7 linked regions of the Homo sapiens genome follow. The protein of the gene in region 4 interacts with the protein of the main gene of each other region in a biochemical or structural test. Each region holds a gene or a part of one and is shown on either strand. Other genes may lie near its edges.

Region 1 (3,500 bases), on a different chromosome or scaffold from region 4:
ATTTATATTTCATAGTGTAACATATTGTCTTTAATTTTTAAAAATATTTTATTTCTGAATTATAAAGACAATAGAAATTCATGTTTCAAAATAGAGGAATGCATGAAAAAGAAAATGTTCCCCTGGATAAAACCCCTCATAATAACACTGTGTCATCAGCATTCATTGTGGTATTGGGGTTTCCTGCAAAAAATGAGCTTTAATGGCTACTGTAGACCTTAATGCCTACTGAAGACTTTAAAGTCTTCTGTAGTGTGGTTCGTTGGTCCCTGATTCCTGAATATTTGGCTCTTTCCAGTTTCTCACTATTATGAAAAGGTTGCACTGAATATTATCGTATAGTAGTTACTGTGGAGTCGCATGTCCAATTATTTGTTTAGGATAAATATCTGGAAATGAAATTACTGGGTCATGACACCCTCTAAAAAGATACCAGTTCTCATTAGTGAACACACTTGTCTATTTCCTGTATCCTGCTGAAATTTATTTTCAGTGTTGTACAATTATTACAACTTGGCCTACCTTTCTCCTCTTTTTAGGAAAATCTCTGAAGGAAATGGAAACACCGTTGTCAGCACTTGGAATACAAGATGGTTGCCGGGTCATGTTAATTGGGAAAAAGGTAAATTGCTTTTTCCATCAGAAATCCTCAGAATCAAATGACTGAAGTCTTTTATACATGTTTCTGTTTAGAAGACCAAACTGGGGACCCAGATTCTGCATTGATAAAACACCTCTCTAAACAAATACAATCTTTATTGGTTTTACAGGATTACCAGTTTTGTTGTTCTCATACCCTCCTGCTCCTGTTGGTTAGAACTTTTGCTCTAGGAATTAGGAGCGGTTGTGCTGCCTTAATAATATGTTTTTTGTTTTGGTGGTGGAATCTTGGTCTGGTTAAAATGGTGCCTGGGACAGGTCTCATTCACTTGGAGTAGAATTTGCAAGAGTCTTTTGTTAAAATAAACTTGTAGATATTAAGAATAATCACTCTGTTCCAGTTCAGGAGCCTCTCTCCCTTTAACCAACCTTTTAACTAAAATCTCCCACAAGGGAAAACCTTCGACTGGAAAGGAAGGTTCAGACTAAAGAACTGAGGGGAAAAAAAGACAGATGAGGTCAGCAACCCTTAAGGTGATGAGAGAGGGCTGTGGCCAGCCCTGCATTGTGACACAGCAGAATTATGAGCATATGAAGTTCCCTTATTGTGAGTTAGGTGGCTGAGTAGAGAGAGGGCAGATAAACAAAGTGAAGGCAAAAAAAATCTAATCCAGACTTGGAACTGCCAGGAGACTGGAACTCAGGACTTGCCACAAAGAGAAGTGAATAATTTGGGATAGCATAACTAAGCAGAAAGCTGCTAGACCTATCTATCAATTGTTTACCTGAGAGAAGAGGGAAATATTCTAAATTTCTTGCTTCAGGGTCAGGGAGAATGGTGATGGGCAACAGGCAGAACCAAAGAGTCAAGTTTGAAGAAACTATAGGACTTTTACTTGGAGCTGACACAGAGCGTATGGAGCGAAGTGTGAACTCAAGGAAGGCACCATGGCACATGCCTATTGTCCCAGCAAGTTGGGAGTCTGAGACAGGAGGATCACTTGAGTCCAGGGGTTTGAGGCTGCAGTGAGTTATGATCATGCCTGTAAACAGCCACTGCACTCCAACCTGGGAACCGTAGTGAGACCCTATCTCAAAAAAGAAAAAAGTCTGAACTTAAGTCTAATCTACCTCTTTTGGACTGTGTGATCTCATGTTACTTTACTACATTAAGCCTCAGTTTCATCATCTGTAAAACAGCAGTACTTCCCTGATGGAGTTGTGGTAAGGCTTAAAAAATAGGTAAGGTGCTTAGGATAGTGTGTGGCATGTAGGAAGTGTTCAATAAAAGTATTCATCGTTGTTAACCAGCATCACATTAAACAGGAGCGCTCAATTGGAGGCTGCCATTTAGGAATTCCATTTAAAGGAATGGTAGAATTCCACCTTTCTTGCCATTCTGGACTCCTCACAAGTGTTTACTGAAATGTGATTACCCTCCAGGCTTCAGTCTTGGTTGTTGATCAGTATAGGGCTGAGACTGAATCTGGCACTTGGATTGTCTCCATTCTCTGCACCCAAGCTGTCAGGGCCCTCACCAGAATGTTTACCTAACACCTTCTCTCTAGTCTGGAGTCTTTGTAGATGGAAAACTTGATGTATAACCCTTTGACTTGATTTCCAAGAAGCAACAGAGTTAAAACTGTTATTTCTAGGTGAGTGGCTTCATGCAGGTGTGGTCAGGTATTTTTCCTGACAGAGGCTGCTGTTCTTGTTGATTGCTTTTTCTTTTTTCTTTTTTTTTTTTGAGACAGTCTCGCTCTGTCACCCTGGCTGGAGTACAGGTGCACGATCTCAGCTCACTACAAACCTCCACCTCCCAGGTTCAAGCTATACTCCTGCCTCAGCCTCCCGAGTAGCTAGGACTACAGGTGCACGCCAGCATGCCTGGCTAATTTTTTTGTTTTTTTAGTAGAGACAGTGTTTCACCATGTTGGCCAGGCTGGTCTTGAACTCCTGACCTCAAATGATCTGCCCATCTCGGCCTCCCAAAGTGCTGGGATTACAGGCATGAGCCACCATGCCCAGCCTGTTCTTTTTGACTATTGGCTTTATTTTCTTCTTAAACATTTTAGAACAGTCCACAGGAAGAGGTTGAACTAAAGAAGTTGAAACATTTGGAGAAGTCTGTGGAGAAGATAGCTGACCAGCTGGAAGAGTTGAATAAAGAGCTTACTGGAATCCAGCAGGTAACTCTCTTCATGGACCTTAACTTTCTGCCTTCTATCAGAGCTTCCTGGATATAACTTGTGGTTATGGGGACATGTTCTGCAGTCAGACTCCCTGGGTTCAGATCCTGGATTCACCCTTTCTCTTACTGTGAACAAGTTTATCTTTGTCTCAAGTTCCTCATCTGTAAAAATGGAATAATGGTGACATTTCCCTATTAGGATTGTTGGGAGAATTAAATAATGTAGATTGAGCTTGACACATACTAAGTGCTTTATAAGCATTTATTGTCATAGTTATTGTCAAACCCCAGCCAGCATCCATTTATGCTCACAGGAGAGCACCTGCCTTGCTAGGATCATGTATTGTCTGAAATAGAACAAGTAGCTTCTCTCTGGGCTGTTGTAATGTGTTTGGCAAGGCAAATAACATTTTGTTGGTTCATAGAAGGTCCAAGTTGAACATGATAGTGGGGTTGGGGGAGTCATCCTATTCAATTCCTTATATTAGAGATGGGGTACTAAAACCCAGTAAGGATTAGGACTAGCTCAAGACCACTTTTATTTATTTTTCCCTCTCATTTTATAGCATTAATTGGGGTGTGTTTGTGTTTTGGCTTTTTTTTTTTTTTTTTTTTTTTTGATATGGAGTCTCGCTCTGTCACCCAGGCTGGAGTGCAGTGGTGCAATCTCAGTGGCTCCCTGTAGCCTCTGCCTGCCAGGTTCAAGTGA
Region 2 (3,500 bases), on a different chromosome or scaffold from region 4:
GCCTCAGTGAAGGCTGTGGGGCTGTCATCAGGGCAAGCAGGAAGCCATTTCGACATTGACAACAGGTACAATTACACTGCCATGCTGCTAAGTGACCTGTTTCTAGGCTTCCTAGATTCTGTAAGATTTAAATGATAAACATATAATGTTTAAAAATGCAGTCACAATCTCTACCTGGCCCCAAAAAGAGGCCCCCAGCCCCTCCATTCCACCTTAGAGTACTGTGCAGACACCCCCGGTTCCCAGAAAGGCCTGAGAGGAAGAAACCGGGCTGCCTCCCTGCATGAAGGAAAGCCAGGGAGAAGCAGCCCACATTCAACCAGGGACGCTCCGCTGTGAGGACCAAGTCAGGGAGCTAAGACCAAATGAACGAATTCGCTTCTTGTTTCCTTTTTTAAAATCAAAGAGTATGACAAGAACAGGCATTTTAGAACATAAATTACTAACAGATAAAATAATGCTCAATCTCACAAAAATCTTCTTTAAAAACCCAAAATGAATGCCCATTTTTAGTCTATCACTTGGCAGCGATGGAAAGCAAGCAGACTCGGTGCTGGCGGGAGAAGCAGAAACAGGCGCTTCCTCAGGCCACAGAGGGTGTGCAGTGGGCACTTTCTCTCCAGGAGGCTGATTTCTGAGGTGTGAAATGCACACACTTCCCCAGCCAGCAGGCCCTGAAGCCCAGCCCACCCAGAACTAACAGCACGGCCGCAGGAGCAAGGAAGACAAGGACAGCCTGGTTCTACCAAGGACAGACGCAGCAGTGGAACCATCTCCACGGGCTGCCTGCCAGCTCTGTGAACCCCAGTGCGCCAGAAACACGCTCATCTGAAGACACTGCCATCTGTCAAAAAACTGTCATCACATACTAATTTAACAGGAAAAGCACACTTTACTGCCGTCTGCTGGAAGACTGTGGTGATAAAGTCCCAAGCTTGTGTGGGTGCTCTGTGTGGCCAATGGGGAGGTGGCTAAGGAGGTGCTCTCCCCGCACCCTGGGACCCTCTCTAGTCACCCCCGAAATACAACCTGAGGCAGCTTCCCAACACCTCACTTCAATTTCAAGACAGCAGAGGAAAGACAGTTCTGCCCCTTCAAGTCTTGAAAATCACTCAGAACAAAGAAGACAAATGCCAAGTACAGATCCAAGTGACGCCTGGATCGGGGCTTGGCTCCCAAAATGCCTGGAACCCAACGCTACCCTGTGGGCAGCAGTGAGGGTACCCACAGCACCCGCAGCATGAGTGGGGCAGGTGCTGACCTCCCCCACTGCCCGCTCAACTCTGGGATCCAGACCCACTGCTTGAGAGGTATCCCAGGAAGGAGCACATCATGACAGGTGTCCACTGTCTGGCCTTGCCGGTCCTTCCCCACAGGTACCTGTGGCCACCCACCGGGTAAGAACAGCCAGGCACTCTTGAGGATGAATGGACACAGCTCTAAGTAGACACTGAAACCCGAAGACCCCAAACACTCTCAGGGCTCCTCCACTTGCAGGGTTCGTGGGGTCAGGGGTCAGGGGTCAGGGCATAAGTGAAGTCTGGGCCAGGTCTCTTGCGGCCATGTTATGGGAGGGTGGGAACGTTAGCAAAGGCTTAGAGCAAGGCTGTGAGAGAACATTGCTGTCCAGCCTGCAGCAGTGTGGGCGCTGTCTGGGCCTCTCTTCTAATCAGTGTGGAGGATGCATTTGCCCCATCAACATGCCAGACCTGAGGCCTTATTAATCTGCTCCAGCAACAACTGCACCTTGACATGCACAGCAGCTGCGGCCAGGACTGCCAGTGCCGTAAGCCTGTGGCCGTCTGGGGTCATTCTCCAGAATCCATGCAGCTTCTTCAAGGGCTGGACTAACGAGTTAGACTGGGATGCAAGATACCACTGTCTCTGCTCCCCTGAGGCTTCCATGGTGGCCCTAGTCTCCTCCACCCACCCCGGGCCCTGCAGGGTGTGATCTTGTTTTTGATTTACTATCTTGGGGGCAGTTTCAGGTTTCCATTTGGCCTTCCCACTGTGACGACTCTTACTCACAGGCCAAGGAACTCGTGTGGGCGTTACTCCACCTGCCAAGCGCCTCCGCTCCGGCTACACACTGAGGACTGGGGAGACGGCCACTGGGTGGCCTGGGACCCTGTGGCCCACTGAGAGCCACCAGACACAGACGGCTCAGGAATGAAGGCCTGGGACACAGGCCAGGCAAGCCACAGAGGCCTGCCAATGTGAGAGCTGAGGGTATGAATAACAGGAAAGGGTAGGGAAAGAGCCAGCAGAGAGACCACAGTGACAGGGACTACAGGGTGTCCCACTAACCTCTGTCTTCCAGATTTCCCCTGAGGAAGAGAGAACCATGGGCGCCACAGGAAAGCCATTCCCAACTTATGTGGAGAAGTAGAGCTGAGGGGGCCAGGGTGGACTGTGGGGTCCACGGAAATGCACTCCTTGGTCTCCCGCCACAGGAGTGAGAGTGACAGATGGCCCAGTGTGGTGTCTGCACCTACCCTCTGTCCCTGCCAGGGCACACCTCCCACAGAGCCGTCAGCCAGGGGCCGACCGGGCAGGGATGCTGAGGCAGGCCCGTTCCTGTGTGACACCGGAGGCCCTCAGAGCTGCACCGCAGTCTGGACCAGGCCTCTGAGGGGCCAGGACTGCACTACGTTCAGCTAGCATTTGCTGCCTCCTCTGGCTGCTCCCCCTTCCTTCTCGCACAGGCCTCCTCCCGGCCAGTCCCTCGCCTGTCTAACCCACCGTGGCATGCGGAAGCCGCCCACGAAAAGCCCCACGCTACAGGGACAGGAAGCTGCAGGGCCGCCCAAATGCCCTAGCTGAGCGAAGGAAATGCCAACCTCTATAAATGGCCACGACACCCAGGAAAGGCTCAGCAAGTGAAATGCAGGTGCTATGGAGGCAGAAGAGGCAAGGGTAGCACTTGGAGAAGTTTTCATTTTATTGAAAGTCCAAGTACGTAGTAGATGTCCCAGATCCCCATCTCCATCCCAGAAGTGAGGCTCCACTCCTTCCTCACTCCTGCTGGCCCTTCACGCAGAGAAACTGATGCCCAGCTTCCAGGTGCAGGGCCACAGGCGCCGCATGCACAGTCCTGTGGGTACCAACAGGGAAGGCACGGTGAGGCCTGCCTGCAACAGGGCTGCCTGGTGAGTTTGCGCTCTGCCACATGAGAAGCACAGCCCTGTACCCCAGCAGCCAGGCTTACATCCCTCCACCAAGGGACTGAAGGGGCCTTTTCCAGAGAAATTAAATGGTGCCCAGAGAAAAAACCTACAGAAGGTGACACCTGTGGCTGCCTGTGGTCCAAGAGACACCCATTCTTTAACAATTTACCCATTCACTCAGTACTTCCAGTCAGCCTTTAATGCTTCAATCTCTTTTTTTTTTTTTTTTTTTTGAGACGAAGTCTCGATCTTGTTGCTCAGGCTGGAGTGCAATGGCACTATCTCAGCTCACTGCAACCTCCGCTTCCTGGGTTCAAGAAATTCTCCTGCCTC
Region 3 (3,500 bases), on a different chromosome or scaffold from region 4:
TATGCCGTTTAGTAAATTCTTCAGGGACTCTTAACAAGCTAAAGACTTAAATTTTAAAATGAAAGTTGTAAGTCAGTTATTTGAAGTGGAAGAAGCCTTTAATGGGTCGTCATCCAGTCTTAAGAATCTGGCTGATAAGGGTTTATTTTGTTGATAACTTGTTTTAAAAGTGTTTTTTTTGGAGACAGGGTCTTCCTCTGTCACCCAGGCTGGAGTGCAGCTGCAACCTCTACCTCCCGGGCTCAAGCGATCCTCCTTGCCTCAGTCTCCCGAGTAGCTGGGACTGCAGGCAAGCACCACCATGCCTGGCTAATAAATTTTTTTTAAGCTCTGGGGAGAGAGAGATTTATGCTGGGTGTCTTAAAGGCTTGGGAGTGTGTTTTCTCATTTGATTTACTCATTTGCTCTTCAGCGATTTCGTAGTTACATTTCTTTAAATCCTAAGTTATAAAAGTTTGTCTCATAATTTACATAAAAGCTCTTAATTTCGGACCTATCTTGGAGAAGGCTGGGATTTTTAGGACCTTCCCCCACTTAAGATTTTCCGCTTAACTAACCTTGCCAGAGGGTGCTACTTCGCATTTTCTTTTTGAATCATTGTCGTTCGACCGATTAAAAATAGAGAAAAAGTAAAATGTTTTATTTATTTTAGAGATGTTGGAAGTTGTTGTTTTTCCTGTCTAATGTCTTGTATATAATTAGGAAGTTGTCCAGAAACTTGCGTCTCTGATTTTGGTAAAAATCTTCCTGTCATTCAGCTGTGTAGGAACGAATCTCCAAAATAAAATTGTCCATCTTTAGCCTGCAAAACAAATTGTCGTAGTGAACATATGCTATATTGTTAATTGCTATAACTTGAGTATCTGATGGTGGGTGGCCTTTGTTCAGTATTGATTTCCTGTGCACTGTAACCTGGCAACTGGATTTTTAATTTTTCTTCCTGTGTTCAGTTAGACTTTAACTAGAAGGCAGTAGAAACTGGAAGTGAAAAATTTCTTGAGTGCAAGCCAGTGTTTTATTGCTAAATTAAGATTCTCCTGACTAATTGGATTTTCTCGGTTTAAAAATCTACAAGCTATCATTTTTGGGTCTTGTGGTTAGCGATTGTCTCTTTTCAGGGGAAAAAAAACCTTTGTAAATATCAACTGTTCAGAACCAATCTCGCTGTTAAACACCTAAGATCATATTTACGTGAGCTCAAAAAATACTCTAGTGAGCATATTTTGCTATGGAAATAGTGTATTGAACTTTTTACTATTTACTGTGTGGATCGGCAATTACAGTTTTGGGGTTTTTTTTGTTTGTTTTTTTTGTTTTTTTTTTTTTTGAGACGGAGTTTCGCTGTCGCCCAGGCTGGAGTGCAGTGGCGCGATCTCGGCTCACTGCAGGCTCCGCCCCCTGGGGTTCACGCCATTCTCTTGCCTCAGCCTCCCGAGTAGCTGGGACTACAGGCACCCGCCACCTCGCCCGGCTAATTTTTTGTATTTTTAGTAGAGACGGGGTTTCACCGTGTTAGCCAGAATGGTCTCGATCTCCTGATCTCGTGATCCGCCTGCCTCGGCCTCCCAAAGTGCTGGGATTACAGGCGTGAGCCACCGCGCCCGGCCCATAGTTTTGGTTTTTGTTTGTTTTTTTGAGATGGAGTCTGGCTCTGTCGCCCAGGCTGGAGTGAACTGGTGCGATCTCGGCTCACTGCAACCTCCGCCTTCTGGGTTGAAGTAGTTCTCTGCCTCAGCTTCCTGAGTAGCTGGGATTCCAGGTGCCTGCCGCCATGCCTGGCTAATTTTTTTTTTTTTTTTTTTTTTTTTTTTGAGACAGAGTTTCTCTCTTGTTGCCCAGGCTGAAGTGCAATGTCACGGTCTCGGCTCACCGCAACCTCCGCCTCCTGTGTTCAAGCAATTCTCCTGCCTCAGCCTCCCGGGTAGCTGCGATCACAGGCATGCGCCACCATGCCCGGCTAATTAGTAGAGATGGGGTTTCTCCATGTTGGTCAGGCTGGTCTCAAACTCCCGACTTCAGGTGATCACCCGCCTCGGCCTCAGAAAGTGCTGGGATTACAGGTGTGAGCCACTGCATCTGGCCTAATTTTATATATTTTTAGTAGCGATGGGGTTTCACCATCTTGGCCAGGCTGGTCTTGAACTCCTGACCTCATGATCCACGCGCCTCAGACTCCTAGAGTGCTGGGATTACAGGCGTGAGCTACTGCCGCAGCCGGCAATGATAGATTCTAGAATGAGGCTGCTTCCCTGCTTCCTCGGTATACCTTTGTAAATTTTTTTTTTTTTCTTGAGGCGGAGTCTCATTCTGTTGCCCAGACTGCAGTGCAGTGGCGCGATCTTGGCTCACTGCAACCTCTGCCTCCTAGGTTCAAGCGATTCTCCTCTCTCAGACTCCCAAGTAGCTGGGACTACAGGCATGTGCCGCTATGCCCAGCTAATTTTTTGTATTTTAGTAGAAATGGGGTTTCGCCGTTTTGCTCAGGCAATCATCCCACCTTGGCCTTCCAAAGTGCTAGGATTACAGGTGTGAGCCACCACGCCCGGCCTTTTTTTTTTTTTTTCTTTTAAATGGAGACGGGATCTTACCGTGTTGTCCAGGTTGGTCTTGAACTCCTGGGCTCAAGTGATCTTCCTCCCAAAGTCCTGGGTTTACAGGTGTGAGCTGCTGCACCCGATCCTTGGTATACCTTTGAACTTGCGGTTTTCCGGGAATATTTCTTCTTTTCTGAGACACTGTCTCACTACTTTGCCCAGGCTGGAGTGCAGTGGTGTCATCACTGTCTGCAGCCTCAAACTTGGGATCAAGCCATCCTCCTGCCTTGGTCCCCCAGTAGTTGGGACTACAGGTGTGCACCACCACACCCAGCTAACTTAATTTTTTTTAGAGACGGGGGTCTCACAATGTTGCTAAGGCTTATCTTGTCTCAAACTCTTGGGCTCAAGCAGTCTTCCCTCCTCAGCCTCCCAGAGTGCTGGAATTGGAGCCACTTGCTCATTGATATTTTAACTTCACCTTCAGCATATGCTCTTTTCCCATTTTGTATTCTGAAGCTGAATAAAATGTGCTGTTGGGGCTTTTCTGTGCCTCAGGTGCTCATTCACATGAAGCCACACTTCATTTGATAGTGCCAATGTCAGCTGGGCACGGTGGCTCACACATGTAATCCCAGCACTTTTGGAGGCCAAGGCGGGCAGGTCACTTGTGGTCAGGAGTTCCAGACTAGCCTGGCCAACATGGTGAAACCCTGTCTCTACTAAAAATACAAAAATTAGCTGGGCACCGTGGCGGGTGCCTGTAATCCCAGCTACTTGGGAGGCTGAGGCAGGAGAATGGTTTGAACCCAGGAGGCGAGGAGGTTGCAGTGAGCCGAGAATGCGCCACTGCTGCACTCCAGCCTGGGTTACAGAGTGAGACTCTTTTTTTTTGAGATGGAGTCTTGCTCTGTCGCCCAGGCTGGAGTGCAATGGTGTGATTTCGGCTCACTGCAAGCTCTGCCT
Region 4 (3,500 bases):
AGGGACGGGTGTCTGCACGCCTGTCCCTATGGAGGCGGGGCTGGGGGGGGCCCTGGAACCAGGATGCAGGATAGATGGTGACTGACACCCACAGTTCGTCCTGCCCGTGGGGGATTTTGACGGGTGGGCATGGCCCTGGAGGAGAAGGGGGTGTTTGGAGGGGAACAGGTCACACTCTCGGGAAACAAAGTGGGGAGGCTAAGCCTCGAAGTGTTTCCAAGAGCAAGTCAGAGCTCAGAGAAGGGTCCTGTCCCAGACTTCACTGGGCTTCTAGGGGATGCTATCTTATTGCTTTCCAATTCCCCATGGAAGCGGCCAAGGCCCTCTGTGTGGTCAGGCTTGGTAAGGAGGACCCAGGAGATGAAGTAGCAATGGGAGAGGAGGGACACAGGCTGGGGCCCTGGGGCTGATGACAAGAAAGCAAAGCTGGGGTGGGGGTATTGACGACTCCTCCTTCCCTCGCTGCACACGGCCCCTCTCCACCAGCAGCACTCCCCAGCTGGCCGAGGCCCAGGGTAATAGATCTTTCCCCTCCCTAGACTCTGGGCAACTCCAGGGCAGGGATGTTGTACCCATGTGTACTGAATGAATGAATGAAGGAAGGAACAAATGAATGCATGCATGCATGAGGCTGGTATTCCCTGCCCCCTGCCCCCAGCACTAAATGTGCACCGTGATTGACAAGCAGCTGTCACTATCACTTCAGAGACCCAGGCCAGCTCTCCAAATCCCCACAGGCCCTTCCACTGCCTCACTAGATGAGGCTGGGGAGCCCTGACTCTGCAGGCACTTCCGGGAGCAGCCCTCAACACACCACTGAATGCTCAGAGCTATGTGGCAACTGGAGATGCCCTCCGGGCTCCAGTACTGATTAAAATTCAGGTGTTTCAGACAGAATTTATGCTGGAAATTTTAGATACCTTTAAGAAAAATAGGTCTTATCTAGAGCCATGGTGGGATTTTCCAGGAAAAACGCCACTGTGCAATTACGGGAGCATTTCCCCAGACATTTCCCCAGTCATTGAGACAGTAAACAATGGGTGAAGTGAAATACTGAGAAGGATGGGCGAAGATCTGGGTGCAGTTTATGCAGTGAGAAGATGGCTTCATTTACTGTCCTAGGGCTGGTTTTCAAACACACCTTCATTTACTGTCCTGGGTTTGGTTTTCAAACACACCTTCATTTACTGTCAGGGTCTCACTGAAAGTACACTAAGAAAGCTGGAATTAGGAGCATGACTTCATGAACCTGCCAACTGCTCTTCCCTGGGGTAAGTATCAAAACTAATAAATGCTGGACTTTTTAAAAGCCTGCCCCAAAATACAAAGCACTTTAAATGACAGCTGTACTTTAGTGACAAATACTCCCCACATTATATATGAGAATGAATCAGACATAAAGCACAGCTTCTCTGTAAACTTGACCAGCTGCAGAGCTCCGTGGCATCGTCAGCTTACCTTGGCTTTTTTGTCATCGCTTCCAGTCCCGTCTTTGCTTTTACTGACCATGCGAGCTGATAAAATATAAAATAAGAATGCTTGTCACACTCCATTTTCACTGTTCACAGAAAGCCAGCTGTGGTGAAGCTGGATTTCTCTGGGATAGGTCCATGTTTGTTTAGTTGGGTCTGGTGGAAACCCAGTTGGTTCTCTTTTCCCTTGAATCTGCTAGGCCTCGCATTGTTAGTATCAACACAGCACACTGGGGTCACTGATTAGCGCAACCTGGCAAGAGGGGGCAGCAGGCTGGCCGAGGGTGGGACCATGCAGAGGGGACGCAGCAGAAACTGTCACGGGGACATGATGGCATGGAGGCTATCTAAGGAAGGTGCAGTCTCCCTAACCCACAGGCTCCTGCCCTGTTTCTGCCAGGGTCAGCCTCACCCCACTGGGACCAGCCCCACTCCATGGATGGGTGTTTTAAAAGCCTCAGGGCCATGGATGTTGGTAGCTCAGTGAGGACCCAGCCTCCTGCAAGATCCAAGGATGGGGGTGGGTGCATTGTCTCCACACTGCAGCCAGGCTTGGCCCTGATTCCCTGTGAGGTGCCTGCTCACCCTCTTGGCCTTGGAAACTGCCTGGAACCACCCGGCTCCCCTGCCCATGTGGCTAGATTGCCAGCAGTCCTGATTTCCACCTTCCTGGCCATCTTATGCTGACCAACCCATCTCCATTTCTGGTCACACGCCTCCAGAATAGGAGAGGCTGGCAGGGTTGTCTTTGTCCCCTAGTTGCTGGTTGTACCCCCAGGGCCTGCCCCTCACTAATGGTGGCTTTGGCCACCAGCCCCAGCTGCTCTGAGACGAGCCAAGCCCAGCCCAGCCCTGAGCCAGGCCTGGTGGGTTTCTTGCCACTTACTGGTCTTCAAAGGGCACGAATTCTCACTGCTTCCCCAAATTAGCTACAAACCAGTTACCATCATACATTCCCACAGACAACATCAGCCTTCATCACACTCCTTGGTGAAACCAACCCGCTGACCTGTCAGCCAGCATCAGCGCTAACTCACCCTTCTCCTTCTCTTGACAGTCACTGCTGAAAACTGATCATAGATTTTCTTCTTTGGTTTCAATATCACATTCCCTCTACCCCATGGACAACTGGGTCTCTTGGAGCTTCTCATTGGCTATTGTCACCTGGATTTCTAGAGGGACCAGCAATGAGTATGCCCAGAGGTTTTCCAACTATACTATGTGGCAGAATCACCTGCTAAAAGACTCCCAGGCTTACCCCACAACTGGGTCTGTAAGCCTAAAGTGGCACCTGGGAACCTGCACTTTAGTAAGAGCCCCAGGCGGATCTGACTCACGTGTTCTTTGTTTTGCCCACATCAACCAGCACCATCCACGGCACAACAAAAGAATCTGCTAAATCGGCATTTCCCAAACTTCCTCCAGGAAATGTTAGCAGGTAGAATCAAGTAAGTTTGGGAAACCCACTCTGTGACCTTCTCAGAGGGTCACAATGGCCATTAGTACATTAAAGGCTCTGACAAGTCCTGCAGCAGAAAAGCCTGTTTAACTTACTTTAGTCTTTTATTTTTTTCCCCCAGTCACTGGGCCATGGAACTCTTTTTTAATCCAAACACACCTATGAACCTCTAGTAGGCCAGTATTCAAGAAAACATCATTTCAGGAAATATTGTAGTAACCTGTCAAGTCAGTTATTTGTCCCCTACTGTTTTGGAATTTAACAAAGGATATAGGATATATTTTTTTCTCTCTTAACTTTATTTTATTTTATTTTTTGAGACAGAGTCTCACTCTGTCGCCCAGGCTTAGGGTACAGTGGTGTGATCTTGGCTCACTGTAACCTCTGCCTCCTGGGTTCAAGCACTTATCCTGCTTCAGCCTCCCCAGTAGCTGGGACTACAGGTGCCCGCCACCACGCCCAGCTAATTTTTTGTAATTTTAGTAGAGACAGGGTCTCACCATGTTGGCCAGGCTGGTCTCGAACTCCTAACCTCAAATGATCCACCTGCCTTGGCCTCCCAAAGTGCT
Region 5 (3,500 bases), 1.6 Mb from region 4:
TGCTCACTTTAAAATCTTACACCCTCAGACAGTAGCACCAAAGGGAGGGGTGTCCATCTGCATTCTTGAAATGTGCACGGAAGTGGGGGAAGGTAGAAAAATTTACACCATATCGTAAAGCAGAAGCTACTCAACTGTGATTAGGAGGGAAGCCCTTTTGAAATCAGTGATTTGAAAAGATAAGGCAGGGTAACACATCATTAACATACCTATAAGTAACAAGGCCCCAGTTCTCCATGGCACCTTCACAAAATAAATATAAACATTTATTGATATATATATATATATATATACTCTTGCATCAAAAGTCACAAAATTTTAAAAAGTTATTACAATTCAGCAATAAAATGAAATTTACTTTACCAGCTGCAAAGTCTGCAATAGCAATGAGATCAATTTTAGGTAGAGGATAAGGAACATTGAAGTAGTCCTTATAAAAAGGCAAGGTTTTAGCAGCAACCTATAAAAGTATAAACAAAATAACCATCTAATAAATATGTTATTATAATTCATATTGAAACCCACAAAGGAATCCTGTTGCAAGCCAATGTATCTTAAATTACTAGAAATGAATCCCGAGGAGCCCTACCCTCCGAAGACTGCCTTAGCTCCAAACTTTGAATACAATGGCCAAACTTTAATCCATTTATAACTTGATATGAAAAATATAACTACATATTTTCCAACCCATTCCCTAGAGAAATTCCACTCTTATATTCTCTTAATTATTATTTTGTAAAATAATGAAACACCAAGGTTGGCATTTCCTAAATTCTACTAAAAATAAACCAAGTAGCACAACTTTCAGATTAAATTATAAATAACTGTACTAATAATTGACCAGAAATGTAAATTCCCCAACCTGGAGTTATGGACTGTTGGAACAATCCTCTTCAAGTACATTTACCTCTAACGCAAATTTTCCTTGCTCTGCTTTGCCAACAGGAGTGTAAACACGGACACACACACCATCTTTTGACCTTGTTTCTACAAAGTCATATTCACCCACAACAAATGCCACCAGATATGTAGACATAACAGGTGTGCGGGCAAACTTCACTTCCACTAAATTTTCATCATCAGGGTATGGTTTCCGGTCAATTACATTCTTTAAGAAATAAAAAAAAGAAAAATTTAAATAGGTTTACATTAATACCATAGAGCAAATACCAGCCAAAAACTGTAGGCTTTATTGCATCTCTTTACCCCTTTCTATTCTAGCATGGCTTATTTCTCTACCCCAATTCATCCAGTGCTTTTATGCTGTCTTTAAGAAGGAAAGTGGTCTGATAAAACACTCATACTAAGAAGCTGGAGGCTGAAGTGTTAAAACTACCAAGGACCTGTGAAAGAAAAGAGGAATGGACTTTTCTCAAATACTTATTATAAGCCAGGCATTGGGATGATTTAAGTTAAGGGCTTCATACTTTTCAACTGACATAAGTTTAGGAGAAAATGACTATTAATAAAAATAAAATAGGGGCTAGGCGCGGTGGCTCACGCCTGTAATACCAGCACTTTGGGAGGCTTAGGCAGGCGAATCACAAGGTCAGGAGATCAAGACCATCCTGGCTAACATGGTGAAACCCCATCTCTACTAAAAATACAAAACATTAGCCAGGCATGGTGGGGGGTGCCTGTAATCCCAGCTACTTGGGAGGCTGAGGCAGGAGAATGTCGTGAACTAGGGAGGCGGAGCTTGCAGTGAGCTGGGATCACACCACTGCACTCCAGCCTGGGCGACACAGCGAGACTCCTTCTCAAAAATAAATAAATATAATATAATTGTAGAATCTCCCATTTCAAAGGATACAAACTTCTAGATCGAGGGCATTCTCTACCAAAGTTGGCTCTAAGCTTATTTGTGAAGAAATTTCAACTTTACCTTTGGAGTCCCTAATTTCCTTTGGTGTTCTCCCTCTTTTTCCTATTCAGGCTCTGTTTCCTCAAGCTCTCTCTATTCTTCCTTCCAAGGAAGACTTATTCAAGAACACACTGATAAATTCACTCATACTAAAGTGTGAATGAATATTTCCGTTTAATATATTAGCCTCCTCTTCTAAGAATATGTGAGAAGAGAATGACATTCTATTTATGGGATGCTCTCCCCCAATAAATACATAAAAGAGTTATTTTCAGGTGCAGCAGGTTTTTCCAAGTTCCCCACACAAGACAGTCCTAGACAACACACTTCAAGTGGGGAATGCTTACCCTGTTCATGAATGAGATCAATAACACTGGTGAAGAGAATACATTCCAAGAATACAAACAGCCAGAGACCTAAATATACTTCATTACGCAGCTACATCTTTTGAATTTTTTTAACTTTTTAAAAACATAAGAGACAGGGTCTTGCTCTGTTGCAACCTTTTTTTTTTTTTTCCCCCGAGATGGAGTCTTGCTCTGTCACCCAGGCTGGAGTGGAGTGGCGCGATCTCAACTCACTGCAGCCTCCACCTCCCAGGTTCAAGCAATTCTCCTGCCTCAGCCTCCCAAGTAGCTGGGGTTACAGGTGCCTGCCACCATATCTGGCTAATTTTTGTATTTTTAGTAGAGATGGGGTTTCACCATGTTGGCCAGGCTGGTCTCGAACTCCTGGCCTCAAATGATCCACCTGCCTCAGCCTCCTGAAGTGCTGGGATTACAGGCATGAGCCACCATGCCTGGCCTATTTTTTTTTTTTTAAGAGATGGGGTCTTGTTCTGTCACCCAGGCTGGAATACAGTGGCACAATCACGGCTCCCTGTAGCCTCAAACTCCTAAGTTCGAGAGATCCTCCCACATTAGCCTCCCAAGTAGTTAGGATTACAGACACGTGCCACCATACCTGGCTAACTTTTAAGTTTTAAATCTTTTGTAGAAATGAGGTCTCACTATGTTGCCCAGACTGGTGTCAAACTCCTGGCCTCAAGCAATCCTCCTGCCTTAGCCTCCCAAAGCACTGAGATTACAAGCAAGAGTCACTGTACCTGGCTTTCTTATGACATTTAATAAGTCAAGACCTTTTTCTTTTTTTTTTTTCTGAGATAGGGTCTGGCTCTGTCACCCAGGCTGGAGTGCAGTGGTGTGATCTCAGCTCACTACAAACTCCGCTTCCTGGGTTCAAGTGATCCTCCCACCTCGGCCTCCCAACTAGCTGGGACTACAGGTGTGTGCAACCACACTCAGATAATTTTTGTATTTTTAGTAAGGACAGGTTTTCACCATGTTGGCCAGGCTGGTCTTCAACTCCTGACCTCAAGCGATCTGCCTACCTTGACTTCCCAAAGTGCTGGGATGACAGGTGTAAGCCACCATATCCAGCCCAAGACCTTTTGCTTTTAGTTACTATAAATCTATTAAACTTGTCAATTTACCTCTCTAAATTAAAAGAAGTAGATAATCTTATAAATGTATTTAACGAGGAATTTGACAAAGAGAAAATCCTCCAAAAATAAAGCTATCAAGAAAAAGAGGTCTTGGCTGGGCATGGTGGCTCATGCCTGTAATCCCAGCACTTT
Region 6 (3,500 bases), on a different chromosome or scaffold from region 4:
GGCATGAACCCGGGAGGCGGAGCTTGCAGTGAGCCGAGATCACGCCACTGCACTCCAGCCTGGGGGGCAGAGTGAGACTCTGTCTCAAAAAAAAAATAAAATAAAAGTATCTTTACCCACTTCTCTGTAGTGAATATTGACTAGCATTTTGAAGTAGGAACTAACAAAGTATAAAATTAAGTAGATTTTTTATATTTATGGGTATTGTTCTAGTACAAATTTATGGTGTACACTGTCGGTCTGAGTGTGGGTTTAAAATATATCATTGTGCTTGGCTAATTTGTAGAATGTCTTATTTGAATTGACTTCATTTATTTCAGAGGAATGCATAGATGATCAGATCAAACTGTCGTCATAGCAGTGTTTTCAGCACATACGAGAATCTTAGAGTTTAGGAGCCTTAGAGCTCACCCAGTGCAATTTCCTGCCGGAAGCAGATTCCTTCCTGGTGACCTCACCAACAGGTGCTTGTGCAGCCTTTTCCTGAAAACTTTTTGGGAAAGTGGGGGCTGCTACCTCACTACTTTGATGTGTACCTTTTGTTCAAGAACTTTCTAAAACTTGGAGCTAATCATGGGTTATTTCAGAAGATGTAAGCATTTTAAGTTTTTTATTGAATTCCATCCTTATTTAAAAGGCCTGGTTATGTAATATTTTCTGTTTTTTTTTTTTTTTTTTGTATGGTTTCCCACATTGATTAGGTTGTTTTCTTCATTTTCTTAATAGATTAAAAATACTTTCTTCTCTTTCTATTTGTGTCTTCTTCCATTTAGTATTTATGGGAGGGAGCAAGAAGGGAAAGGATGTCTATTTTTAAAATTGACTACAATCATGACTGTTCTTCTTGTCATTCTGTAGCAGCTGGATTTATTACCATCTCTTATTTAAAGGTCCTTCAGAACACGTTGAAGCAGTTCATTTCAGGTCAATGGCTGGTAAGCAATGTCAGGACCTCTGGGGAAGGAGAAGCTGACGGGATCCCAGAGGAAAGAATTGAGGTTGTTTGCTCCCTTGTAGAAAGCCCACAGATCCCTTCCCAGACTAGAAAAAAAGTGCCAGAGTGTCCTGAAACTTTCCTTCTAAGGCACATACTTCAAAGAGACTGGGGATTCCTTTGTTTTAAATATAGGTGGGGTCTCACAGTGTTGCCCAGGCTGGGCTCAAGCGATCCTGCCACCTGGGCCTCCCAAAGTGATGGGATTACAGGCATGAGCCACCATGCACGGCCATGGAGATTCTAATGTGGTGCCAGCTGCCAGGTAAGAAAGCTGTGAGACAATGTGTTGATTTTCCTTTACTACGTCAGGTTTGAGGACATCATCTAGCATCAACGGGTAACGTCACCCTTTGTTCCATCTTTGGGAAATAATAGTAGTAGCTTGTTACTGTTAGCTGACCCCTACATTAGCATCAATAAAGTAAATCCCTTTAACTTTCCTTTTGGCCTTTCCTTTCTCTCTCTCTGCCTCCCCACCAGCCCCGACTCTCTCCTGTGTGCGTACACATCCACACACACCTCCATGGTATTCCTTCTTTCTCCCACCTAAGGGAAGCTGTGCCCGATCTTGCTGCAGTCCAGGTCACCGTACTGAGATGAGTCAGCCACAGACTCTAAACACTAGCAGCGATTAGCCGTATGTAGCCACCAAGTGCACTGTTTTAGACAGGTTTACACAGCTCTTTGCTGTCCACTCATATCAGCTGTGTAGTAGCCCAAGGCAGCCTGTCAGGCAGAAGAATTACCAACCAAAGTGGATCTATTCATAAGATAAAAGATCCGGAGTCCGTGCCCTCTTAAAAAACTTTTGTCTTCAGACATATGGGTGCGTGTTCATCTCTGGCCAAAACTTTGTTTCCAGTTTCAAAGGGCTGGTTGCGAAGGTGGCCTTGTAACCTTTCTGTTGCCGGCTCTGTTAGTTGCCTGATAAGCAGTAGCTAATTCATCCTCCTCAGAATTTGAGAGTGGCATCTATTAGATTCAGACCACCAAGGTGCCTGCGCGGGCTCTCCTGGTTACGACTGAGTCCCCTTTTCTCATCTGTGGGGTGAACGCTTCTATTTGCAGAAATTTGCTTGCATCTTTTTCCTTTTATTTATTATTACTTTTTAGAGATGCGGCCTTGCTCTGTTGCCCAGGCTGGAGTGCGGTGGACTCTTTTCTTTTGTTGATCTTTGCCATCCTCTGCCTGGCTTAATGAGGTTCTTTCCCTGCGTATTTATGTCCCAGGAGCTCACCTTCCCCCTAGGTTTTTAAGAAGGAAGCAGAAAATGTTACAAAGTATAAGGGATTCTATGAAGTCCATAGATAGGATTTGCTTTGGGAGTAGATGATTTCTTCTTATTTTGGTGTAAACATCAATTTGGATGGCAATTAGAATGTCTTTAGCCTCTTTAAAAAGCCCTTCTGGGGCAAACCTTTGCAAGTCACTCAGCTGGCATGTAATGAGATTTTTATTTGCATGGCTTTTTTTTTCTAAGTCTCTCTAGAAGAACATAAGGACATTCTGAACATGCAAGGAATACAGTTATTCTCACATCAAGGATCAATTTTATTTTGTATCTTCATTTTATGTCATTTTCCTTTATTTTATTCACATTAATCTAGCATTAATTCCCCCCAGAGGGAATGATATTTTTGGTTGCTGCCACCTGTGTTATTAAGTGACAGCTTTTCTTTATCTGCTTTTCTGAATTTCATATTTATATACTTTATTGTAGTTTTTTAAAATCTATTCTAGCTGGGCTAGAATCTTCCAAGTATTAATTCATAATGAACTTCCCTCTTCTGGAATTGTTTAGGAGGGCTAATGTTCCATGTTCCCTTCGTTGCTATAGATATGAAGTTATTTCGATGTTCTTTGAGTGCTTTATTATAGCGATAACTGGTACTGCCTTTGATTAAAGGTGAGCTATATGGAGTTAAGCATTTTTATACTAGTAACTATTTATTGAGAATTTTCAGAATTCTATAGCTACTTGTCTTTAACAGTTATAAGAGGCATGTATTTTTTTTTCCTTCATGGTCTGGAAGTTAGTTTTCTCTTTGTTTGGGTAGATCGGAATGAGTTGTTGAGCTGTGTTGAAAACACACATGAATCAAAAAAGCAGATGTATTGTAGAAATGTGATGTTTTCATGTTTCGGGAATTTGACCGGAAAGCTTTATGTATGGGTTTTATTTTTAACAAAGCAGTAAGGGCTTACTTTTTACCAACTTGTGTGTGTGTAAAGATGTATTTGTTCAAGCTTTAAGAATAAACCTGTCAATGTACAAATGCCTGATATCTGACTTGGACTTGTGGTTTGTTTGTTTGTTTGTTTGTTTGCTTTTCGGGGCGTGGGGGTAGGTATGTTGGATCTTGGAAATAAGTGAGAGTGTTAAAGAAGCACAACAATCTGTATCAGTGAATTTACATCTTAGAAGACTCACATTAACTTATGCTTGAATGAAAACCGTGTGTGGATAACTGAATGCAGCGTTTTCTGAACTGCCCTGAAGGA
Region 7 (3,794 bases), on a different chromosome or scaffold from region 4:
ATCATTTTAATGATACAAGGGAAGATGTAGGGAGTTAACTAAAAAAGCACCGTCCTCACTCAATATTTTCTATATTTGAAGTCCTACTTTGAGCTTTCTTAGCCATGTGACTTTGGACAAGGTACTTCTCCAAATCTCAGTTTACTCACCTACCTCTTGTGAGGATTAAATGAGATAATCCATTAAAACCCAGAGGGTGGAACATCTTTAATGCCTGTAAATTCAACCTGCCATCTTTCCTCTCACCTGGCCCTGCTCTGAAGATAGATAGTGGATTCTTTTGGGACAGGGTCTCACTCTGTCACCCAGGCTGGGGTGCAGTGGCTCACTGCAGCCTCCACCTCCTGGGCTCAAGCGATCCTCCCACCTCAGCCTCCCGAGTGCTCGGACTACCAGCGTGCACCAGGTGGTGGATTCTTAAGTCTTCTTTATCCAGTAGTATTACTGGCTCTTCCTGAGCCCAGAGAGCTGCCCATGAATAGCACTGGGAGCATTGAGGCTCGCTGAGAGTCACTTTTATTGGGAACCATAGTTTTAGAAACACAAAAATAATTCTTTCACGGGATTGGTTCCAGGAGCCCAGAATATGAGTGGCCCCCTACTCTCCAAACTGATCAATGACCTTCTGTATCCACTTCTTCAGGCGGAACACATGTGTGTAGAAGCCATATTTCCCATCCCGGTCACAGCCTTCACCCCATGAGACGATGCCCATTTGATACCAGCGGTTGTTAAAGGGGCTCTGAAGAAGAAAGATGAGGTTTCCAATAGAGTCAAGTTCAAGGTCACATCAGTATTCCCCTGCCAGGCAACTGTTTCTAGATACTAGAGTTTCTCCCCACCCCCAGAAGATGTGTTCACCAGGCCCTGGGCTTTAGAGAAGCTTACCTTCATGACAAAGGGTCCCCCACTGTCACCTTCACAGGCATCCCCTCGTTTCCCTTCATCAGGCTTGTAACCTTGAAAGAGAACAGCCGTCTGTGCTCAGGAGCATAGCTCATAGCCCAGCCACGCCCCTTCACGAGACACAGCTGGTGAGAGTCCACTTACCCCTCCAGTCATTCTTGCTGTCCCCACTTCCTCACCCTACCCATCCAATCCTAGCAAATCTTGTCGGCTCTACCTTCAGCATAGACCCCAAATCCAAACCCTTCTCACCACTTCTAGCTCGAGCTCCTGAACCCACTAGTTTCCTTCATTCTTTGCCCACCTACAGTCTATTCTCCACCCAACAGGCAGAATAATGCTTTTAAAAAGTTGGACCAGACCAGGGGAGGTGGCTCATGCCCAAGCCGGGTGGATCACTTGAGCTCAGCAGTTCAAGACCAGCCTGGGCAATATGGCAAAACCCTCTCTCTACAAAAAATTAGCTGGGCATGGTGGCACATGCCTGGAGTCCCAGCTACTCGGGAGGCTAAGAGAGGAGGATCACTTGCGCCTGGGAGGTTAAGGCTGCAGTGAGCCGTGATCATGTCACCACACTCCAGCCTGGGCAACAGAGTGAGACCCTGTCTCGAAAAAATTAATTAATGATAAAAGACCAAGAAAAAAATTTAAATTAAAAATTAAAAAATTAAAAAGTTAGACCTACAAGTCTGATGAGGATAATAATGATAGTTGCTTTTATCCAAATCTCCCCACGTATCCTCTACAAACAATACAGAACAACACTAACAACAGTAAAACCTACACAAAAAAACCACACCTTCACTAGGTGCTGTGGCTCACACCTGTAATCTCAGCACTTTGGGAGGCCAAGGCGGGCGGATCATGAAGTCAGGAGTTTAAGACCAGCCTGGCCAACGTGGTGAAACCCTGTCTCTACTAAAAATACAAAAATTAGCCAGACATGTTGGTGTGCGCCTATAATCCCAGCTACTCAGGAGACTGAGGTAGAATTGCTTGAACCTGGGAGGTGGAGGTGGAGGTTGCAGTGAGCCGGGATTGCACCACTGCACTACCGCCTGAGCGACAGAACAAGACTCTGTCTCGAAAAAAAAAAATTAGCCGGACATGGTGGCATGTACCTCTGATCCTAGCTACGTGGGAGGCTGAAGCAAGAAGAGGATTGCTTGAGCCCAGGAGTTCAAGGCTGCAGTGAGCTATGACTGTGCCACTGCACTCCAGCCTGGGCAACAGAGCAAGACCCTATCTGAAAAAAAAAAAAGCTAGCAAGAGAACAGCAAAGTAAACCAGACAAAAACGTAAGCAAACTTTTTAAGAGAAAAAAGCAGAAATTAATGAACCACAATAGAAAAATAATAGGCCTGGCCGGGCGCAGTGGCTCACGCCCGTAATACCAGCACTTTGGGAGGCTGAGGCAGGCGGATCACAAGGTCAGGAGATCGAGACCATCCTGGCGAACGCGGTGAAACCCTGTCTCTACTAAATACAAAAAATTAGCTGGGCGTGGCAGTGTACACCTGTAGTCCCAGCTACTCGGGAGGCTGAGGCAGGAGGATGGCGTGAACCCGGGAGGTGGAGCTTTCAGTGAGCCGAGATCGCACCACTGCACTCCAGCCTGGGTGACAGAGCAAGACTCTGTCTCAAAAAAAAAAAAAAAAAGGCCAGGCACGGTGGCTCACACCTGTAATCCCAGCACTTTGGGAGGCTGAGGCAGTCGGATCATGAGGTCAGGAGTTCGAGACCAGCCTGGCTAACATGGTGAAACCCCGTCTCTACTAAAAATATAAAAAAATTAGCCGGGCATGGTGGCGTGCACCTGTAACCCCAGCTACTGGGGAGGCTGAGGCAGGAGAATCACTTGAACCCAGGAGGTGGAGGTTGCAGTGAGCTGAGATCACGCCACTGCACTCCAGCCTGGGCGACAGAGTGAGACTCCATCTCAAAAAAAAGAAAAATAATAGGCCTAATAATTTCATAAATCAAATCCCTAGATATTTGTTTTGAGAAAACCGGCAAGCCATTAACTAATTTACTCAAGAAAAATAAGATATTACAAATACATAAAATAAGATACCAATAGAAAAAATTATAAGAGAATACATTGCAGCAGTCAAGAAAGATACAATAATAGACTTGAGCAAATAGGAAAACGTTTCTTATCCTTGGATAAAATGACTCAACATCAAAAATATGTCCATTCTCCCAGTTAATTTGTTGAAGTGTCATAATCCCAATAAAATTACCACCAAGCTTTTTTATAGACCTAGGCATGTTGACACTAAAGTTCATATGGAAAAACAAACATGCAAGAATTGCCAGGAAACCACTGGAAAGAAAAACTAAAAGAGAACATTAGCCTTCCCAGCTATGTACGCTAAAGCCTCTATCATTAAAACAATGTGACGCTGTACACAGACAGACAACAGACCAGGAAAGCCGAGTCGAACATCCAGAAACATACTCATCCTTAAGCATACTCTATCCATAGAAATCTAGAACGTGGGGCTGGGCACCGTGGCTCATGCTGGTAATCCCAACACTTTGGGAGGCCAAGGCAGGAGGATCACTTGAGCCCAGGAGTTCGAGACCAGCCTAGGTAACATAGCAAGACCCCGTCTCTACAAATCAAATCAAATTAGCTGGATGCAGGAAAAAATAAAACTAAAAAATAAAACCTAGGTCAGGTATGGTGGCTCACGTCTGTAATCCCAGCAGTTTGGGAGGCCAAGGCGGGAGACTTGCTCGAGCCCAGCCAGGAGTTTGAAATCAGCCTGGGCAGCACAGGGAGACTTGTCTATATTTCAAATAAATAAATGAAAATAAGATACAATCTAGAATGTGATAAAGGTGAAATCTCAAATCACTAGTTCAAAGATTGATTGATTGAT

What was found.
Region 1: the proteins of MAPT (region 4) and BAG1 form a complex in vitro, tested with the Homo sapiens proteins (one study listed by BioGRID).
Region 2: of the proteins of MAPT (region 4) and MAPK9, one has a biochemical effect on the other in vitro, tested with the Homo sapiens proteins (2 studies listed by BioGRID).
Region 3: the proteins of MAPT (region 4) and PTGES3 form a complex in vitro, tested with the Homo sapiens proteins (one study listed by BioGRID).
Region 5: of the proteins of MAPT (region 4) and NPEPPS, one has a biochemical effect on the other in vitro, tested with the Homo sapiens proteins (one study listed by BioGRID).
Region 6: of the proteins of MAPT (region 4) and RPS6KA5, one has a biochemical effect on the other in vitro, tested with the Homo sapiens proteins (one study listed by BioGRID and IntAct).
Region 7: of the proteins of MAPT (region 4) and F2, one has a biochemical effect on the other in vitro, tested with the Homo sapiens proteins (one study listed by BioGRID).

What each region holds. Positions count from the first base shown.
Region 1 is NC_000009.12:33,258,209-33,261,708, reverse strand, and holds part of BAG1 (BAG family molecular chaperone regulator 1), read left to right. Parts: intron 1-539; coding exon 540-622; intron 623-2,675; coding exon 2,676-2,789; intron 2,790-3,500. UniProt on the Homo sapiens protein: Co-chaperone for HSP70 and HSC70 chaperone proteins. Acts as a nucleotide-exchange factor (NEF) promoting the release of ADP from the HSP70 and HSC70 proteins thereby triggering client/substrate protein release.
Region 2 is NC_000005.10:180,250,584-180,254,083, forward strand, and holds part of MAPK9 (mitogen-activated protein kinase 9), read right to left. Parts: intron 1-3,500. UniProt on the Homo sapiens protein: Serine/threonine-protein kinase involved in various processes such as cell proliferation, differentiation, migration, transformation and programmed cell death.
Region 3 is NC_000012.12:56,681,785-56,685,284, reverse strand, and holds part of PTGES3 (prostaglandin E synthase 3), read left to right. Parts: intron 1-3,500. UniProt on the Homo sapiens protein: Cytosolic prostaglandin synthase that catalyzes the oxidoreduction of prostaglandin endoperoxide H2 (PGH2) to prostaglandin E2 (PGE2).
Region 4 is NC_000017.11:45,985,054-45,988,553, reverse strand, and holds part of MAPT (microtubule-associated protein tau), read right to left. Parts: intron 1,515-3,500; coding exon 1,459-1,514; intron 1-1,458. UniProt on the Homo sapiens protein: Promotes microtubule assembly and stability, and might be involved in the establishment and maintenance of neuronal polarity.
Region 5 is NC_000017.11:47,583,108-47,586,607, reverse strand, and holds part of NPEPPS (puromycin-sensitive aminopeptidase), read right to left. Parts: intron 1,109-3,500; coding exon 908-1,108; intron 461-907; coding exon 364-460; intron 244-363; coding exon 210-243; intron 1-209. UniProt on the Homo sapiens protein: Aminopeptidase with broad substrate specificity for several peptides. Involved in proteolytic events essential for cell growth and viability. May act as regulator of neuropeptide activity.
Region 6 is NC_000014.9:90,847,642-90,851,141, reverse strand, and holds the end of RPS6KA5 (ribosomal protein S6 kinase alpha-5), read left to right. Parts: 3' UTR 1-3,281; downstream 3,282-3,500. UniProt on the Homo sapiens protein: Serine/threonine-protein kinase that is required for the mitogen or stress-induced phosphorylation of the transcription factors CREB1 and ATF1 and for the regulation of the transcription factors RELA, STAT3 and ETV1/ER81, and that contributes to gene activation by histone phosphorylation and functions in the regulation of inflammatory genes.
Region 7 is NC_000011.10:46,736,213-46,740,006, reverse strand, and holds the end of F2 (prothrombin preproprotein), read right to left. Parts: intron 960-3,794; coding exon 889-959; intron 743-888; coding exon 599-742; 3' UTR 501-598; downstream 1-500. UniProt on the Homo sapiens protein: Thrombin, which cleaves bonds after Arg and Lys, converts fibrinogen to fibrin and activates factors V, VII, VIII, XIII, and, in complex with thrombomodulin, protein C. Functions in blood homeostasis, inflammation and wound healing.